Homo sapiens: one gene and its partners. The protein of the gene in region 5 interacts with the protein of the main gene of each other region in a pairwise test. Each region holds a gene or a part of one and is shown on either strand. Other genes may lie near its edges. The genes, in order: ACSF2, TPD52, CDK5RAP2, HCCS and SENP2.

What was found.
Region 1: the proteins of SENP2 (region 5) and ACSF2 interact in binary tests that used the Homo sapiens proteins (3 or more experiments, as listed by UniProt).
Region 2: the proteins of SENP2 (region 5) and TPD52 interact in a two-hybrid assay, tested with the Homo sapiens proteins (one large-scale study listed by BioGRID and IntAct).
Region 3: the proteins of SENP2 (region 5) and CDK5RAP2 interact in a two-hybrid assay, tested with the Homo sapiens proteins (one large-scale study listed by BioGRID and IntAct).
Region 4: the proteins of SENP2 (region 5) and HCCS interact in binary tests that used the Homo sapiens proteins (3 or more experiments, as listed by UniProt).

The regions. Positions count from the first base shown.
Region 1 is NC_000017.11:50,463,746-50,467,718, reverse strand, and holds part of ACSF2 (medium-chain acyl-CoA ligase ACSF2, mitochondrial isoform 2 precursor), read right to left. Parts: intron 3,902-3,973; coding exon 3,810-3,901; intron 3,502-3,809; coding exon 3,425-3,501; intron 3,224-3,424; exon of another isoform or gene 3,194-3,223; coding exon of another isoform or gene 3,120-3,193; exon of another isoform or gene 2,422-3,119; coding exon of another isoform or gene 2,280-2,421; intron 2,013-2,279; coding exon of another isoform or gene 1,849-2,012; intron 1-1,848. Other genes in the region: CHAD (chondroadherin precursor), read left to right, coding at 1,849-2,012, 2,280-2,421. UniProt on the Homo sapiens protein: Acyl-CoA synthases catalyze the initial reaction in fatty acid metabolism, by forming a thioester with CoA. Has some preference toward medium-chain substrates. Plays a role in adipocyte differentiation.
Region 2 is NC_000008.11:80,066,792-80,070,764, forward strand, and holds part of TPD52 (tumor protein D52), read right to left. Parts: intron 1-3,973.
Region 3 is NC_000009.12:120,440,365-120,444,337, reverse strand, and holds part of CDK5RAP2 (CDK5 regulatory subunit-associated protein 2), read left to right. Parts: intron 1-595; coding exon 596-718; intron 719-3,973. UniProt on the Homo sapiens protein: Potential regulator of CDK5 activity via its interaction with CDK5R1. Negative regulator of centriole disengagement (licensing) which maintains centriole engagement and cohesion. Involved in regulation of mitotic spindle orientation.
Region 4 is NC_000023.11:11,110,073-11,114,541, reverse strand, and holds the start of HCCS (holocytochrome c-type synthase), read right to left. Parts: upstream 3,211-4,469; 5' UTR 3,024-3,210; intron 2,524-3,023; 5' UTR 2,482-2,523; coding exon 2,382-2,481; intron 1-2,381. UniProt on the Homo sapiens protein: Lyase that catalyzes the covalent linking of the heme group to the cytochrome C apoprotein to produce the mature functional cytochrome.
Region 5 is NC_000003.12:185,613,470-185,617,442, reverse strand, and holds part of SENP2 (sentrin-specific protease 2), read right to left. Parts: intron 2,880-3,973; coding exon 2,703-2,879; intron 1-2,702. UniProt on the Homo sapiens protein: Protease that catalyzes two essential functions in the SUMO pathway.

The DNA of each region.
Region 1 (3,973 bases), on a different chromosome or scaffold from region 5:
TGTTGGGCCTTCCACCCCTCCTCTGCTGTTTTTCCCGTCTCCAGTAAACCTACCACCCCATAAAGGAAGGTTTGTTTATTGAGGAGCCTTCCAGAGGAGCTGGGCAGATCAGGCCCACAAAGAGACCCTGTTCCTGGTGGGGGCTGTGCATGTGTGCTAAGGGGGAGTGGGGGACTGGGGAGTGAGGGGAAGCAAATGCCTGAGGAAGACATTCTCCATGCCCCATAGAGGCCCTGGTGGATGGCCCTGCCCAATCCACACAGACACAATTCACTGCATTCTCAAGTCCATTGCAGCTCAGTAGGCGTGGGACCAAGGGCTCCCCCAGGATGCAAGCATCGTGCCCATGGGCTCCGTGAAGGGGCAAAGGCAAGACCACTATTGTCAATCCTTGGCCCAAGACCCCAGGTGTCTCTCCACAGAGAAGACTGGCGTGACTCACTGTCTCCAGACTGCTAACTGCCCTTTGCCCTCCTCCGTCACTAGACCCATCTCCTGTCTGCATCCTCACTCATTCCTTTCTCCCCTGGGGTGCCCAGTGTCTGGCCAGGTGGGGCTACCTTGGATCAGAGCAGAATCCCTTCTCTGGGACTGGAAAAATCACCCTGGTACAGGGGCTTCAGCCAGGAGGTTTGGGTGGGGAACCAACAAGGTAGAGGAGAGTCTGGTTACTGGAGACCTTCATACCTCAATGTGGGCCACAGGAAAGGGTGCGGGTGTGGAGATGTGGGCAGAATCTCACTTGGGCAGCAGCCAACCTTTGTCTGGGTGGAAGGAGCCTGCTCAAGCCTGCCCTTCTTCAGCCCTGCCTCTCCCCAGCTGAAGTTGGAGTCCCCTGTGGCCCACCAGTGCCAGAGTGGTCTTTCAGTGGGCAGCAGAGCAGCGAATTAGGGGCTGGTTTGGGGCAGGGGAGGCCAGACAGGAATTGTGGCGCCTGGGCAAAGGTGTGGGCACCAATAGAACATTTCCTCTGGAGCCGTCCAACCTGGCCAAAGGCTCCACCAAGGTGGCTTCACAAATAGCGTCTGGCTGGCAGTGGGGGAGCAGTGAGGACAGAGCTGAGGGAAGTCCTGGGACCCTGGGACTGTGGGGAGCCTGGGCCCACTGCCCACTCCACCAAGCACAGACCAAGTTCACCGTGTACCAGTTTGGATTGCTGGGGCCAAACTCTGGCAGCCCCACAGTCCCAGTGTTTGTGCAGGGATTGTGGTGCCAGGGGAAGAGGAGCTGGGTGTGGTCCTGTGGCTACTGTTTACCCACTGCTGTGACCCAGGGCAAAGGACTGCGCTTTTTCCGTTTCCCCATTTGCATATTGAAAATAACACCACCTGGCTGGGCGTGGTGGCTCACGCCTGTAATCCCAGCACTTTGGGAGGCTGAGGCGGGTAGATCACGAGGTCAGGAGATCGAGACCATCCTGGCTAACATGGTGAAACTGCGTCTCTACTAAAAAAATACAAAAAAATTAGCCGGGCATGGTGGCGGGCACTTGTAGTCCCAGCTACTCAGGAGGCTGAGGCCGGAGAATGGCGTGAACCCGGGAGGCGGAGCTTGCAGTGAGCTGAGATCGTGCCACTGTGCTCCAGCCTGGGCAACACAGTGAGACTCCATCTCAAAAAAAAAAAAAGGAAAAAAAAAAAAAAAAGAAAATAACACCATCTGTCTCAAAGGGGGTTGTGTAGATTGGATTATCTGAGATCACTTGGTCATACTGCTTTGAAAACTGGGAAACTCCTCAAAGTGCTATGGCTCAGGTTCAGGGAAGGATCCTGCCCCTCTGGCACTCGGGTGCTTACTCATTCACTCATGACCACCTTGCTCCCACCTTGCTCCCACCTTGCTCCCCAGTTCTCAGATGGTGCCTTCCTGGGTGTAACCACGCTGAAACACGTCCATTTGGAGAACAACCGCTTGAACCAGCTACCCTCCAACTTCCCCTTCGACAGCCTGGAGACCCTCGCCCTTACCAATAACCCCTGGAAGTGTACCTGCCAGCTCCGGGGCCTTCGGCGGTAAGAACACTTCCATGTCACTCCCAGAGCCCACCCTCATGTGATAGAGGCACATTAGCCCTGCACTAAGACATGTTGGACATGCATCCTAGATCTGCTACCTAATAAGCATGGGACCCTGGGAGCCTCAGTTTCCCCATTTGTAAAATGAAGATGACAGCTTCAGACTATCCTGTGGCCAAGTCAATCCTGGCCCCATAGTTCACTGCCCTTCCCCCCAGCACTCCCACCTTCTTCCCCAGCCCCAGCAAGTTTCTGTCTCTCCAGGTGGCTGGAAGCCAAGGCCTCCCGCCCAGATGCCACCTGTGCCTCACCTGCCAAGTTCAAGGGCCAGCACATCCGTGACACGGACGCCTTCCGCAGCTGCAAGTTCCCCACCAAGAGGTCCAAGAAAGCTGGCCGCCATTAAACAGGTGGGGGCCAGGTAAACAGGTCCCCTATGTCCCTCTTTGGTGATTCCAGCAAGTGAGCTGGTATCTTCCAGGATACCCCCTGGCCCTGGAGGGTCAGGCAGACCCTCCATTTTTACAGAGAGAGGAGGGGACGACTGGGTCCCCTGTTGAAGGGAGGAAAAGGTCCTGCCCAGGACTTCCACCATTTTCTTCAAGCATCATCTGTGTTGTTGGAGTACTGACATCGATCTTTGCCTCTTTGCAGGTTCTGACCCAGCCAGTCCTGGTGACTGGCCTCTGCCTTCCACCGGAGAGACTACTGACCTTCTCACCTCCACCCATACCTTCTCCCCACAGCCTCTGCTGATGCACAGAGCTGCCTACACCTAGACACGTCCTGGCAGGGGGCCTCGGGCACTCCACTACCAACCCAGCTCCACCCAGCAGTGTCCTGGGGAGAAGGAAGGCTGAGCCTCTCCCCAGCCTTCATGCCTTCCCCACCCTCCAGCTCCTCTTGGAGAAGCTGTTGCTGAGACCCCCCCCCCAAGTCAATCAGAACCACAACAGGTTGGTCATCAGGATGGCCACCCTCCCAGGATCATCCTTCCTCTGTTCCTCTTTCCCTGCCACGTGGAAACAATCATCAGATCCTTGCCCCACCCCTTGCTTCCAGAAAGGGTTTTAAAGCCCATGCCCCAACTCTGCCAGCCCCCACCTGCCAGGACGTTCTAGCAGGACATCGGTGCTTTGCTGTCCATCTTCCCATGCTGCAATTTCTTCCTGAGATTTCTATAAATATAAATGTATGTATGTATTATATTTACTCCCCTGCCACCTATCTCCTTCACCCACCAGGTGCTGATGAGGTCAGACTATCTTTTCTCACATCTGCTTTCTGGAAGGAGGGCTGGCTGAGAGGGTCTCCTTTGAACATCTGGCCTGGACTCATCCCCATGTCTGTCCATCTGCTGTCATCCCAGGCCTGGCCTGCCCACAGCCCGGGCCGCAGTCACCACTCACCACCAGGTCCTTCATATTTATCTTGTTGATGATGGCTCGGATCAACTCTGGAGGTGCAGGGGACCCAGCAATGACACCTGAATCAGAGAGAGGGCTGACACAGCTCCCCAATTCTCCAGGCCCAGTGGAGTCCTTTCACCTACAGCTCATTCAGGGGAGGAACATTCCCTTTTCTCCTCTGACCCCGAGCCTTTCCTACACCTGGCAGCTGGCCCTGGGCTGGTGTCCAGGGACACTGGGGATCTCCCTCCCTCCCACCCACATTTTTACAGCGTCCTTCTTGCCCCCTATATAAAAGACTGGGAGCATAGCTAACTCACCCGGGCCATTCCTGTGGGGGAAGCAGCCCCCTCCCCAAGCCTGGCTGCCCTTGGCCCCACCCCACCTCCACACATGGTCGAGATGTCATAACTGGAGAAGTCTGGCTGGTTCAGAATGTCCACGAACATCGTGGGGGTACCATACAGGAAGGTGCCTCTGTATAGGAGGAGGTCTCGAAATTAGGCTTGGAAGTGGAAGGGAACTCCCTGTTCTCACCCACCCCGCCAT
Region 2 (3,973 bases), on a different chromosome or scaffold from region 5:
ATGTCAGATTATGTGAAGAAAGTTGTATGAGATTGAAACTGAGAGTCAAGCATTCAAGTAACAATCATATAAGGCAACACAGTAAGAACCATAACAGAGCTACCTGTTAAACGTTATTTTATTTTTAATGTTTTGTACAGAACTCCCAGGTTCTCCAACTACAACAGATCTCCAAAACAAAACAAGCAAAACTCAGGTACCAAACCATTACTTAAATAGCAAAGACTCTTTCATGCTTTTTTGATACACACTGTTTTGCAAATCTACTCAAACAAGGGGAGAAATACAGTATCTGACTGCTAACACAATGCTTTATGTATACTGCCCAATTCCAAAAAGAATCCAAGGGGATTCTGGTTCTATTCAAGTATGCGGCTAGGCTATCAAGGAAAATAAATCTCTCAGAAAAGAGGATGACGGGTTGTCCAGTTGGCTTCAAGTCTGCCAGGATGACCTTGAGATTTTATATTCAGCATCTAAGAAAGTTGGTAATGACATGTTCTGCTCTTTCCACATTAGCCCGTAGGTGGCAGCAAATCATTATCATTAAAATTAAAAGGTGCAGTCTGGAAAAAAAAATTAGAAATTAAAGAACACCAAGGAAGAACAGAATGGTAGATACCAAAATCACCAGCAAAACATCACAGTCATGCCTTGAGAAAATTATTAACCACAGCCACCATGACAGAGTGCATTCCATTTACAGACAAGTCCAAATTAAGTGTTTTAAATACTTATGTGCAACACTTCTGTGAGGTGGGGATCCCTGTCACCACTTACAGATCAGGAACCTCAAGCTTACAGACATTAAGCAACTTGCCCAGGTTAACACACCTAAATCTTTGGTGGAGGTCAGATTTTAAACCTAGACGGTCTGATGTAAAAACAAATGCTTCACATCACTGATCTGAAAACAAAGACAAAAGTAGGAGGCTGATGGTCAGACCTGAAAGGTATCTAGAAGCAATAATAAGACCCTAAAAAGTGAAAGAATCTGGCAGACTAGATCAAAAGCAGTCTTCATTAATTCCAACTAAAGTTTCCCCAAACCTGGGAATCCAAATTTTGCCTTATATATTCGTCTAGATATGATCCTGTTTCTTGTATGTTCAGTAATGGTATAGGATTTAATATGAAAATAGAGTCTGGCTTTTGGGAGAAAAGATTAATTTCTCATTCACAACATGAAAGGTGGAAAATAAGAACATTTAAAAGTATAGATTATTGAAAACCATAATCCAAAACTTATTTGTTCATTAATTTTAATGTTGTTTTTTTTTTCTCAGAATCTGATGGAAAGCTGTTTTTAAAAGACAAAGATGGTGGGGAAAATACAATTAATATCTACTGACATCTACTACACCAGCCACTGTGAGGGGAAGTCTACATGTTATCTTATAAAAATAAAAACACCCCATAACCACCATCCGAGAGGAGTATTTTTTTTCCACCAGGAAACTGCGGTCCTCTAAGGCTATATAATTTGCCCAGAGTTACAGAGGCAGGATTAATACTTGGGTCTTTCTGTCTCTCGACTCAGCTCCATCACGAACATCTTAGAGAAACATCAATGATCATGGCAGGACAAGGAAACAGGGCCTAGTCTTTCTCCATAGAAACGTTTTACTTTCCTGAGGGTCTAGGAACCTGTGGGGATCCCTGGTTTGAAAGTCACAGATAACATTATCAAACACAAGTGACTGAAAATGAGTGATAATTTCTTCCATCAGGTTATTAACATTTTAGCCATTGCCTTAGTTCTCTTCATCTAGCTGTGCAAACAGATTGTCAGCCTGTCTTCAGTTCCATCCATAGGATCCCTGAAGAGCTTTAGGTGGGGGAGTGACAAGTCTAGACTTGTCTTTGGAAAAGTCCTTCCAGCAAGCTGGGTATTGGGTGGCCTCCCCTGGGAAGGGTCTGGAGTCCACTGGCAGGGCAATGCATCTCGCTGATTCCCAGCTGAGAGTTCTAGTGTCTCAGGGGTAAGGATGGAGAAGACAAGCAGAGACACATCCCATCAATCTGAAGATACTTTTTACATTTTACATCTTTGAGATGCACTGTACAATTAATCAGCCAGTCATTGTGACATGGTTATCACCTGCAAACATGCTTCAAAATTTGCAAAATGGCTTAGAAAATGCCAGGTCCGGTTACAGACGTCTCTTAAGAAAGGCTGCACCACAGACATTTTATGTGAGGAAAATAAATCAATAGAATAGACATAGATTACTCCAAGTTGAATAGCAATTCAAATAAGTTAGATTATGGGTGTGAAGACATTTTAGGAAATGTTCTTTTTTATTTTAGAAAATATGCACAGGAGTGTTATGATCAGTGTAAACGTCTGAATAAATCTAAAAAAGAACTTCAATAAATGTAAAAATTTTGGCCAGGCACAGTGGTTCATACCTGTAATCCCAGCACTTTGGGAGGCCAAGGTGGGAGGATCACTTGAGCCCAGGAGTTCGAGACCAGCCTAGGCAACAAAGTGAGATCCTGTCTCTACAAAAACTCAAAAACCATTAGCCGGGTATAGTGGCCTGCACCTGTAGTCCCAGCTACTCAGGAGGCTGTGGCGGGAGGATCGCTTGGGCCTAGGAGGTTGAAGCTGAATGAGCTGTGATCGTGCCACTGCACTCCAGCCTGGGCAACAGAGCAAGACCCTGTCTCAAAACAACAACAACAAAAATTTTAATAAAAATTTTTAGGGGGCTGGGCATGGTGGCTCACACACACCTGTAATCCCAGCACTTTGGGAGGCAGAGACAGGCAGATCACTTGAGGCCAGGAGTTCAAGACCAGCCTGGGCAACGTGGTGAAACCCCATCTCTACTAAAAATAATTTTTAAAAAAGATTTAAAACTTAAGTTATGATAAAGCAGGTTTTTTTTTAGTTTAACTATTAGCATATTTTATACTTAATGAAACAAAAAATAATAGTAACATCTTACAATCTGTGGTGTCTTGGATTTGATGAAATACAACACTTCAAGACTTCAGAGTCCTTGTGAATAATGTGCGGAAGACAAAGTGGAAATGTGTGTGTGCGAGTGTGGTCAGAGCAGGGAAAGGCAGAGCAGAGTGGCCAAGAACCGGTAAGAGCTTAGTCCTGAACACATCTCTAGTTCTAGACTATAAAGTCCTGATGTCACTTTATCTCTCCATCTCAGAACTCACAGTGCCTAGAACAGTCAATGTTAATATTGCATCTGAACTGAATTATTCTTTAAAGATTTAATTAAAGTAGCTCTCTCTTTACTTTCCCATGCATAACCACCCATTTGCCACATACTTTCACAAATTTCAACTGGGGAAAGCAGCAAAAGCGTTTTTACTAAAAATGTAGAACCTACACTTAAGCCAAAAATAAGAGTTTGAGGAGCGCCTCTCTCTGCTTGGGTGCAGCCCCAACCCCCCTTTGGAGCACCCACTTAAATGGTTATCTTCCCTCTAGTTCTTCGTCTTTGACTTTTATTCCAATTATGACCAAGTGCTTCAAGACTTTCTAAGATTATTGATTAAAAGCTTTTTGGCCATTGTCATACAATTTTAGATCTGAAAGAATTCTGAATCGTTTAAGTCAGCAGTCCCCAGTGTTTTTTGCACCAGGGACTGGTTTCATGGAAGACAATTTTTCCACGGCGGTTGGGGGTTGATGATTTTGAGAGGAAACTGTTCCACCTCAGATCATCAGGCATTAGATTCTCATAAGCAATGTGCAACCTAGATCCCTCGCATGTGTGGTTCACAATAGGGTTCATGCTCCTATGAGAATCTAATGCCACCACTGATCTGACAGGAGGCAGAGCTCAGGCGGTAATGCTCACTCGCCTGCCACTCACTGGTTCCTAACAGGCCACAGATGGGTACCAGTCCACCACCTGGGCGTTGGGGATCCCTGGTTTAAGTCAAATGCTTCATTATATAAAGATGAGAAAACTGAGGACAGATTTTTACAAGAATAGGAAAA
Region 3 (3,973 bases), on a different chromosome or scaffold from region 5:
AAAGGTAACTCAGCTCAACAGAGGCCCTGGCACTTTGCCCATAGCTTGCCATTTTTTAAAATTCAAATTTAAATTTTTTATATTTTGTAGAGATGGGGGTCTTGCTATATTGCCCAGGCTGGTCTTGAACTCCTGGCCTCAAGTGGCCCCCCTGCCTCGGCCTCCCGAAGTGCTGGGATTATAGGCATGAGCCACCATGCTGGCTCCTAGCTTGCCATTTGCACTCAATACTGTTTTTATTTTTTGCTGAGACACCAGAGTGCCTCAACTCCAGGTGCTACCTCAAACAGTTGCCCAGGAGACCCTAGGGCCTCTCTCTTCTTGGGAAAAATGGGCACGAATTGATAGAATTCATTTTCTCACTCAGCTTTTTGAGAGCCTGGACTTAAACCATTTCAGACAAGCTGCAGTATATTTATGCTTTTTATGTCCTGTTATGGCAGCTCGATAGATTAATTTTATCTTATAAATTGCATTTTGCCTCCCCAGTGTTTTTATTTTCCCTGTTGTATCTTTGTGTTCTTCTCAGTTGCTTGGCTAAGTTTCAGGTCTTACGGTTTTATTTATTTTTCTTTCTCTTTGTGATTGCCTGTAGCTCAGCCCCCTGTGGGAGCAGCCTACCAGGACAGCCCAGGAGAGCAGAAAGGAATTAAAACCACATCTTCTGTCTGGAGAGACAAGGAAATGGACAGTGATCAGCAAAGAAGCTACGAGATTGGTCAGAATTCAGCCCCTGTGTGTATTGAACAGCTTCCATGTGCCAGGCACCATTTGGATGTTTTATCTAAAAATTATTACTAAGCCCATAGCAGCCCTCTCAGGGCATTATTATCATTCCAGTCTAACACATGGGAAGCTGAGGTTTTAAGAAATAATTGACCCAGGGTCACCCAGCTGGTAAGTAGGAGAAGAGTCAAGGTACAGTAGGATGTCAGAACCCACCCGTCCATGTGTCAGCATGCTTCTCTACCAGGCAGTGGGCTGGGTTCTGGTGGTTCAACATGAAAAGACACAGCCTGCTCTTAGGGACCCCACAGCTCGGAGGAGACAATCATCCCAACAGCCTGTTAGTATTCAGCGCGGGGCTGCCTGTTGCTGAGGTGTGCTTGGTGTTGGTCCGTGTGCCCAGGAGGAGTGGGTCAGAAGAGAGCCTGAGGCTGAGACTGGGTTTGTGGGGTTTGCCAGGCAGATCAGTGGAAAAGGTGCAGAGATACGGGTGAGGGCAGAGGCAAGTTGTATTCCTTTCTTTTTAAAATTATGAAGTATTAGAAGCATACATAAGCACAAAAGATAATATAACAAATACTCATGTTCTCATTCAACCAGAATGAACAAATGCCTACATTCTTTTTATGTTAGATATTTTTCCCCCTTCATTAAAAAAAATCACTATTAATCCAGATCTAATTCACTCTGTTAGAAATAATTGTCCTCAAGAATCCTAAATTTGTCATGGGATGGCCATGGGGACACCAGTCTCTGGAAAAATACTGAGTTGTGGTATATACACTGTTGTATACTTTTGCAAGGTCCAGAGTCACTGCAGTGAACACATGGTCACATGCTTCTGCGTGTTCTGGGCTTTGAGGAGAAAGCTACTCTACCAGGCAATAAAGTCCCCCTTAGCTGAATTGTGGAAAGTTGTAGAACTATAGTATTTCTTATAATGCAAATATTCATAAATGGTCTTGGGGACATCTTTTGATTTCTTCTTGATAGTTATTAATACAGACTTCTTAACTAATCGACAGCTTCCCTTTCCCTGTCAGTACTTCCCTTCATTACTGAATGTCTTTCATTTTTCTGAATGTGCTTCCAGAACTTTGTATGTGAATTGCATCTGCCTGAACTTCCACCTTTTAATTGTTGCGCAGCTGAGGCTGGGTGCTGCGTGTGACATCTTCATTGCTGTTTCTTTTTCACAAGGCCCTTGACAGATACTTGGGATGTGAATAAAGGATTTTACAGGCATCTTGGCCTTCACATTGAGGGTTAAGAACTCTCTCTCTCTTTGCTCATGCACCGCGGTACAGGAGATTGGATTGCAGGAGTGTTACTTCGGGAAGCATCATTCAGAGTGTTAGAGGCAGACTGCCAGGCTTTGAGGAGGGGCTCTACTGCTTACCTACCCTGAACCCTAAGCAAATTCTTAAGCTCCCTAAGCCTCAACTTCCTCTTCTGTAAAATGGGGGTACTAGTGATGCCTCATAATTACTTAAGGAAAGTCCTGGGAACTAATCTTTATTTCCATGAGTGAACACGCTTCTTGCCATGAAGTACAGACCAAATTCTATTATCATGAGGTTATTACAGCAAAGATATTTTCTTGTCTTGGAGGGTGATTCACTGGAAAAAAAGCCTTATGGAGAGATATCTCCCTCCCCAGTTCCTCTTTCTCTTTCTTGTTCAGCCAGAAATACTTGGTGAGTACATTCTCTGTCGCAGACCCTGTGCTAGATACTGGAGAAACAGACATGGATGACACGGTCTGCACCCTCAAGGCTCTTATTGAGTAATTATCATAACATTGTGTATAATAAAAATACTGTATTAGGAATGCTTCCTTTAGGTCAGGTAGCAGCTGCTTTCTGAAATGAAATGCCATACTTTATGGTATTTGCATCATGAACAGATACAAGAGTGTACCTCAAGTCACAAGGAGCAGATTGCAGAACCAGAAATTGGGACATGCAGTCTGATGAGGATTTGTGTGTGAATTTCTTTCTGAGAGATCTCCTAGGTCACCCAGTCCAACCCACGTTGTTGCTTTTGTAGCATTTTTCCAGGCTGGCCTTCGCACGCACGCCTCCGGTGAAGGGCATCTCCTTCTATCTTGGAATGGTTAGAGGATGTTTGTGTTACTTGGATTCCTTCACTACTATGTGCCAGACACTGTGCTAGCCTTTTTTTTCTTTTTGCAGATTTTGTTCCATATAATCCCTAAAAACAAACACACACACACAACTTTTCAGTGATGTTCTTTCCATTTTACAGATAAAGCTACTAAAGCTCAGAGAGGTCAAGTAACTTGCCTATGTGACAGAGCCAGAGTTTGAAACCATGTCTGTTGAATTTCAAAGACAGGTTTTTCTACTACATTCCGCTGCCCCTTAAGTATTCAGACAGCTCTCTATATTGAACGGAACTTTCCCTGGGCAGCCAGCAGTGTGGCACAGTGGTTAAGAACAGAAGCTGCACTACAACCATATGAGACATCTCTTTCTACATTTTAGACACAGGGGAAACTGAGGCTCTTGGATAGTAAAGTCACTTGCCTCAGGCTGTGTGGCCTTCAAACTTCATATTCTTTCTGCTGTACTACTCCACTTCTGAAACAAGTTTGACTGCATCTCTAAGGGTTTAGCTATTACTAGCTATAAGGAAATATTTCCTGGCAGTGTTGTGAGTGAGTGAAACACCTCACTAAAGGGGATGTCAGGGCATCTCCTGGAAGCCATTAGACATGGAAATGAGAAGACTGTCACGTGTTGTGGATATTCAGAATTACCACTCTTTACTGTTGCTTCACAGAATCTCTCAATATTTCTCACACTGGCACTGACTTCTGGTCTGGGTTAGGTTCTGTACTAGACGCCGAGAATGTGAAAATGAAAGGCCACATCTCTGCTGTGAAGAAACGTGCAGTCTGGTGAGGGAGAGCTACATTCAGATGACGAATTGCTATGTGAATCAATAAATAAGCCACTTAAAATTTTTACTTTAGCACCCAGCACATAGTATATTTGTCTTGAGTAATATGCATAAGGTGCTACAGAACCACAGCGAGTTGTGACTTTTGCATAGTTTGGCAGTGGGCTTGCAGAGGAAGGAAAATTAGATCTGGGTATGGAAAGAGTTCATTAGGTAGGAGTAGAATAGAGGGCTGAAGGTGTTCCAGGCAGAGGGCACGGCCCATGCAAAAGCATGGAGGCATGACACAGCACGCAATGTGCAGGGAATCATGGTTAATTTT
Region 4 (4,469 bases), on a different chromosome or scaffold from region 5:
TTATCTGTGCCATGGTTTGAGTAACCTGGCTGGATGAGCAGCTGGGGAGCTGTTAGAGGAACCTAAGAGGGGACCAGCCACATTTCACAGGGTCTCCTTGACTTTCCATTCACTAGTTCCAGAGAAGCCCAGATCCAATCAGGACACAGTTGCAATCCAGGCTTTCATTACTGATGCATTATCTCAGGTACAAGGAAGGGGAGGAGAAAATGAACAGAGGAGACATCACAGAGGCTACTGCAAAAAAATCTGAATGCCACTCTGCTTTGTCTCAAGACTGAAACAAGGCACAGGAAAACCACGTGGCCTATGGCCTATTCCCATCAGTCAATGGCAAGAGTTTAACAGGAAAAGACAGACAATAAAGAAAATATTCCACAACCCATACAGGATCAAGATGCCCATTACGAGGGAAGGTCTGAGCCTAATGAGATGAGCAATAGCAAGGGCTATGCCCAAAGACCCAGGATGCTGATCCCAATTAGTGAGGGACTGGGAAACTGGTTCAGAGAATGAGCAGGCACTTGGAGAGCTGAGACACAGAAGACAGCTGCTCATGTAATGGAATCTTGGCCTCAGGCAGCAGCAGCAGCAACTACAGCAATACACATGAAAAAGCTGAGTTTGCTTTCACTTCCTTCCCTGCACTTCTCCTCCCAAGCCCTCATTTCCTGGTGCCCTGTGCCACTGCCCACTTTAGGGGTGAAGGAAGACTTGCTATGCCTTTCCTCTCTACCACTGAAAGCACCAATCCTTTCCAAGTCATAGATCCCAGCTGGGTGTTACAAAGAAAATAACATTTCAACTTTTCACGTCATATAACCAGTAGCCCCTTCGATCTCCTATAGACACCCACATTCTTTATTAATGTAGTAAGTCTGGCAGCTCTCCAAGATATACAGCAAATGAAATAAAACCAAAGTAAGGGTTCTAGAATCTCCCTGAGGACACTCAGAACAGGAGCACACCTGCTTTGGCTGATCTGTCTCAATTCTTCCTGTACAAAGAAACCCCAGAAGAACACTGCCTGTCCTTGTCCAAGGTCACAGAACTTTTGCTGGCTTTGCCACTTACTATGTGACTTGGAGCATCAGTTACTCCAAGTCTTAGTTTCCTTGACTATAAAATAGGGAGAAAACTTAGCTTATGAAGTCGTAAGACCACATAGCTTATGAAGATGAGAATGTAAGCTCTATCAGGCAAAGCTCCATTTTGTATGATGTTATTCTCTCGTGCAGAAACAAACAAAATCCAGCAATGCTTGGTACAGAATGGGCAGTGACCTCTCAGAATAGGCTGGCTGACTGAAGAAATGAATAACAGCGCAAACATTAGTACTCAGTAAGCACACCATGTTGCTTCTGCCCTTCACGACTTACTGATTCAAGCCACACTTTAATATAAAAAATCTAAAGTAGACATGAATGAATTAAAAATGAAAGACAGCTTTTCCATTTTCATTTTCTTATCTAAAGAATGGACAGCAAGCCCGTTAAGTGATGGCTTACTTTTATATACGAAAATACTGAAATGGCTATACGAGCAAAAGTTATTTATTAAGACAGCTAGATCTAGACTAAGGTTTCTCAACCTTGGCCCTCTTGATATTTGGGGCCAGCTGATTCTTTGTTGGGGGGCTGTTCTGTACATTGTAGGATGTTTAGGAGCACTCCTGCCCTCTATTCACTTTCCTCTCAGTTGTGACAACCAAAAATGCCTCCAGATATTGGCAAATGTCCCCTGTGGGAAGGGGGGATTGCCCCCCTCCAGTTAAGAACCACTGATGTAGGCACAAGTAAACTTTGGGAAGTTGGGGCTGGTTTAGAGTACTCACTACGTTCTCATGTACTACCTCAATCATCATGACAGGCCTGTGAAACATTATTATATCTTCATCTTACAGATGACAGACTGAGGCTAACAGAGTTAACTTGTTTAGAGTCACAAACCTCAATAAGACGCAAAATAACGACCAGACCCAGGGTGCCTGACTCCCATGCCTACCAGCCTCAGCAGCATACTACACTGCCTCTTCCTTTAGAGGCTTTCCAGACTTTTTTTAAGACACAGTCTCACTCTGTCACCCAGGCTGGAGTGCAGTGGCACAATCTTGGCTCACTGCAACCTTGGCCTCCCAGGCGATCCTACCCACCTCAACCTCCAAAGTCGCTGGTACTACGGGCACCCACCAGCACGTCTGGCTAATGTTTGTATTTTTTTGTAGAGGGAGGTTTTTGCCATGTTGCCCAGGCTGGTCTCGAAGTCCTGAGCTCAAGCAATCCACCCACCTCGGCCTCCCAAAGTGCTGTCACAGGCGTGAACCACCGCACCCAGCCGTGAATTATCTTTTGTTTTTATTTTCTAGGCAAAGGGCCGATTACCTTTCATTTTCCCTTCATGCATCGGGCATCCTGAAGGTGGGGACGCTGAAGCATTTGAGGCCTGAACTGCAACAGCAGGAGCAGATGGAGACAAACCCATGGCTGGAAACAGTGTTGACTGTAAACAATTTTAAATTTCCACCTGCCAAAACAAAGAGACAGATTAATGTCTCTGGACTCAGACTATTCTCTCGTTAGTCCTAATCTGGTCAACCCTTGTTCCTCCTCTTTGTCATCCCATGGGCATCTACCAGGCAGGGTACTAACTTCGAAGGACAGCTTTAATATATTGCCCCCTTAGGGAAATACTGTGAAACCCAGGCCAACCTCTGGGGGCACGTATGTATCTAAGGCAGTGAGGATTTTGGGACTGAGGTGAGGCAGTCGCTGAGAAACCACGTCACAGCCAGGAGGTACAGGCCTGAGGCGGGAGTGGGGCGAGGATTTCCGAGGAGTGGTGACCCGGGTGGAGGAGGGGAGGTCCATTGAGCCTAGACTTGACCCCCATCCCCAGAGCCTTAGCGAGGGGCTGGGGGTCCGAGAAGGGTGCGGCGCATGAATAGGAATTCGAAGAAACGAAGGGACACCAGAGGTCGAGAAGCTGCCAAGTGTCTTCCCCACACCGTCCCGGCGCTTGCCCACCTGCTCCAGCCCGTGGTCCCCAGACCAAACCGGCCGCGGCCAGCCTGCCCTTCTGCACCTAAGCCCTCCCCCGGGCTGTTCCGGGAGGCCGGTACCGCCTTCAGTCGCCAACCCGAACCCAGAGCAGCAGTGACTTCACGCCGCCGCCGCCGCCGCCGCCGCCTTCCTCTCACTCGGTCACCGCTGTGGCTGCGGTCACCGCCGGCGTTCTCACGCACCCCTACTTCCTTTTTAGAAGGCGGGACTTCCGGGCACGCGGGAGGCGGGCTGAAGAGTAATATTTTCCGTCAATCACGGAGAGCGGGTTCCGTCCCCTCCTCGCCCCGGCCTGTAACTGCTGCGGGGGCCGCTTTCTGGGCCCGCCCCTCCAGGCCAGGAGCCTTTTTCAAAATGTGGCGGTGGCAGGGAAGGTTGTCTGCTCCAGAGGCTTCCCTAGAGTGAAGAGCTCTACTATGTATGCTTTATGCGGCAGAAGGAGTGCTTTGGAGGAGTTTTTAAATTTGTTTTTTTTTTAAATCTTATCGGTTTTAATTGTAGCAATGATTCAAGAAACGTTAGTAGGTGCCCATAACTTCGGTGGTGGAGATCCAAAAGTGAACAAGACAGTGTTCTGGCTGCTAAATTCTTCTTAACTGGGTATGTGATTTTGAATGTCTGTATTTTCATTTACCTCCAACAGAAATTTAGCATTTTCTTCCATCAGGGATGTAGGCAATAAATCCTAGTACTATTAGCTGTATGTGGCACTAATACACATTACAGATAAATTATGTCACATATGGTTGTTGTGCCTGTCTCAAAATATCATCCATCCACTACTTTGAAATTAAGGTAATTTGATCTTGTTACTTAAAGTGTTAATAAAGAAACATATATCTTTCTATATAACTATAGTGGCTCTGTGAAATACGTCCAGATGTCCCCTGGTGCAGAAAGTGTTGGGGGCTCACAGCTTTCAGCTGAGTCTCCAGGAATTGTCCTCTGCCTAAGAGAATTGCCTCACACAAAATCACTTCCCCTCCTTGGGGACGATCTGCATCCTATGAGGGTCTCTGCAAGGGCACATAAGTCCAGGCCCCTAGCCCCAAAGGGGACAACTCAGAAGGGCCATCCCAGCATCAGAACTGCCTACAGGATAGCCCAAGGATTCCATTTCAACTATCACAGCTCAACTTCTCTCTTTACCCACAATTCTTTTGTCCCTCCCACAATTCCTTTTCACTCCCGCAATTCTGTTTTGTTACCCACAGTTCTGTCTCCCACAATTCTCAGTTCTTTCCACAATCTTCTGTCTCTCCCACAATTCCTTATTTCTCCCACAATCCCATGTCACTCCCAAAATTCTATTCCTTCCCACAATTCATTTTTCTGTCCCACAATTCCTTGTCTTGCTCACAATTCTCTTGTTTCTCCCATGATTCCTTGTGTCTCCCACAATTCACTTTT
Region 5 (3,973 bases):
GAACCATTCATTATCAGTTATTGAAAACTCCGAGACTGAAAAAAGTTTTTCATCTCGGCAACACCTGACTCTTGAGAAAAATATACTATCAAAGACCTACTAAACTACAGTAGGAAAACATTTTTTTCTTATTTTTAGTGATAGAGATGGGGCCTCATTATATTGCCCAAGTTGGTTGCAAACTCCTGGGCTCAAGCAATACCTGCCTTGGCCTCCCAAAGTGCTGAGATTATAGGCATGAGCCACTGCACCAGCCCTGAAAATATTTTAACTTATAACTACAAAGCAGCCTTACTTAATTGTTGTAAGTAATACTTACAACAAATCCTGGTTCACTTATTAGCTTGTGGAAACAATAATTTAATAATAATATTTACATCTAAAGTATAGTCTCAATTTTCCTACTACTACGTATTAACCACTATGAGTCAAACATGGTGTTAGATGCTTGAAGCACATCATTGATCCATATTAGTGAGGAAGACATTATTATCATTTTATAGAGAAGAAAATTGAAACCCAGAGAATTTATTTTACATATTCAAAGTCATATAATTATTAAAAGGTAGAAGAAGATTTGAACCCAGGTGCATCTAATTTCCTGGACTTTGCTCCCTTCATAATAGTAAACTCCTGATTTCCACTTTAAACGTTTTTTTTTTTTTTTGGAGACGGAGTCTCGCTCAGTCTCCCAGGCCGGAGTGCAGTGGCGCCATCTCGGCTTACTGCAAGCTCCGCCTCCCGGGGTCACGCCATTCTCCTGCCTCAGCCTCCCGAGTAGCTGGGATGACAGGCGCCCGCCACCACGCCCGGCTAATTTTTTGTATTTTTAGTAGAGACGGGGTTTCACTGTGTTAGCCAGGATGGTCTCGATCTCCTGACCTCGTGATCTGCCCATCTCGGCCTCCCAAAGTGCTGGGATTACAGGTGTGAGCCACCAGCCTGGCCCTTCTTTTTTTTTTTTTTTTGAGACAGATTCTCACTTTGTCACCCAGGCTGGAGTGCATGCAGCTGCATGATCTCAGTTCACTGCAACCTCTGCCTCCCAGGTTCAAGCAATTTTCATGCCTCAGTCTCCTGATTAGCTGGAATTACAGGTGCACACCACCATGCCAGCTATTTTTTTGTATTTTTGGTAGAGACGGGGTTTCACCATGCTGGCCAGGCTGGTCTCGAACTCCTGACTTCATGATCCGCCCATCTTGGCTTCCCAAAGTGCTGGGATTACAGGCGTGAGCCACCACGCCCATTCTCGCCTTTAAACTTTTAAAACATCAAAAAAGGCTGGGTGTGGTGGCTCACGCCTGTAATCCCAGCACTTTGGGAAGCCAAGACGGGCGGATCATGAGGTCAGGAGTTCGAGACCAGCCTGGCCAGCATGGTGAAACCCCATCTCTACTAAAAATACAAAAATTAGCTGGGCGTGGTGGCACGCGCCTGTAGTCCCAGCTACGCAGGAGGCTGAGGCAGAAGAATCACTTGAACCTGGGAGGCAGAGGTTGCAGTAAGCTGAGATTGTGCCACTGCACTCCAGCCTGCCAACAGAGCGAGACTCTATCTCAAAAATAAATAAATAAATAAAACATCAAAATAAGATTAGGACATCTAAGGGGTCACACCATCCTTTTTGACATGAAGAGAATAAGCAAACAGGCAGAAACTTGGAAACCACCCAGCAGTCTAGCAATTGACTCCTTATGGAATAAATGGCTTCATCATACTAAAGAATTATGCAGATAAATGCATTATTTAAGATACAAAACTAAATCTATAAACCCAATAGAAATTATTTTCCTCTAGGCCGGGGGCAGTGGCTTGCGCCTATAATCCCAGCACTTTGGGAGGCCGAGGTGGGTAGATCATCTAAGGTCAGGAGTTCGAGACCAGCCTAGCCAACATGGTGAAACCCGGTCTCTACTAAAAATACAAAAATTAGCTGGGCATGGTGGCAGGTGCCTGTAATCCCAGCTACTAGGGAGGCTGAGCCAGGAGAATCACTTGAACCCAGGATGCAGAGGTTGCAGTGAGCCAAGATCGCGCCATTGCACTCCAGCCTGGGCAACAAGAGCGAAACTCTGTCTCAAAAAAAAGAAATTATTTTCTTCTAAATATATGCTGCTTCCCACTGCACACAGCTTCACCATTTTATGGATCTCTCTCTCCACCTACATGCCCAATATAACAGTAAGTATTCAAGAGATTTGCCTACTAGGGCAACATTGTGGAGGAAGCCAAGATGTGGGCACATCTTTAAAATAAGAATTTTAACTACCTTCATTCTTTATGTTCTGTAAGTTTTTACTATTTTCAAATGCAATAATCAACAAAGGGGGCATTTTAGTAAACTATAATAACTTTCAAAAAAAAAATGCAATGAACTTATTCTTAATGCCAAACCCATACTATATAACTCAACATATTTGAAGGTTAGAATTTACAAAGAATCTGTTGTATTCCAAGATATGAGATGACTGTGTCGACTCCCCATTTGCTGAATATCAATCTGATCCCTTAGGCCACTAATGATCATGCCTCACTAAAGATCAATGTAGTCAAAGTGAATCAACAGACCATGGACCTGACATGTTTTCATATATTCACCCCTAGCCTGGAGAAAGTCCTCAAAACAAAACATTCAAGTTAGAATAACTGAGGTTATTTAAAGACATGCCTCTTTTTAGGATCAATACAAAGAACAATACCTCTGTAAGTTCAAGGAGATCGTCCGTTCTTCTGTCCCTCTCTTTGCCTGAGCAATTCTTTTCCTTTGTCTCAATTATTGACACTTTCCTCCTGAGTAAGCCATTGCTTCCACTGCCCAGGCGGAGTCGGGCCGACACTTCTTCTGATAGGTCAGGCTCCAGTTGGTATCCCCTCCTCTGATCAAAAAATTATCTAAATTCTACTGACATGTTTGATACTTGCAAATATAAACACAGATTACACATGAAATATAAAACTGCCACTAATGTGAAAGAAAAGAGAATTAGCAAATCCCCCAAGTGAGTAGATTTACCCTATCTGTCTGTCCCTGCAAGGGGGAGCAAAAAAAGCTCCAGACCTAGGCCTCACAGGACCCTCAGTTATGAACCATCAAACAGAACACTCACCACCTTCCCTGGAAGTAGCAAGAAAAGTATTTTCAGTTCTCCTATCACAATTAAAATTAGTATGTTTAAAAGATATTATGAAAGTTTTAAACAGCAAAAAATATGACCCACAATCCCATCACTCAGAATAAATCCCTACTATCTTTATAGTAACTCAACTTGGTTCTAGTTTATCCTTGAAAAAAGTCATTTGATATTACAGAAAATGCACAAAACATTAATGTACCACTTAATTTGAATGAACACCTATATAACCACAATTGTAGTAAACAAATAGAATTCTGCCAGCAACCCAGAACATATCATCTCTTTCCAGAGATGTATGATTTTTAAGAAATTCTCCCTAAGAAGCCATAAAATGTAGGTAACATGTTGGTATGGAGGCAGATTGGTCTCTCATAAACAAAGGTGGCTACTGTACAGAGGCAAAACTCCAACAACTCAGAAGGAAGAAAAAAGTTGTGTATTTTCAATGCTTCCTGCCTTTTTTTTTTTTTTTTTTTTTGAGACAGAGTCTCATTCTGTCACCTAGGCTGGAGTGCTATGGTGTGATCACAGCTCACTGCAGCCTTGACCTCCTGGGCTCAAGCAATCCTCCCACCTTAGCTTCCCAAGTAGCTGGGACTACAGACATGCCACCATGCCTGGCTAACTTTTAAATTTTTTTGTGGAGACAGTCTCACTATGTTGCCCAGGCTGGTCTCAAACTCCTGGGCTCAAGTGATCCTTCTGCCTTGGCCTCCTAAAGTTCTGGGATTACAGGCATGAGCCACTGTGACTGGCTGGCTTGCTGCTTTTTTAAAGAAAAACAACAGAATTAACAATCAAAGTTATATATATATACTTTTTCTTGCTTTTCATGG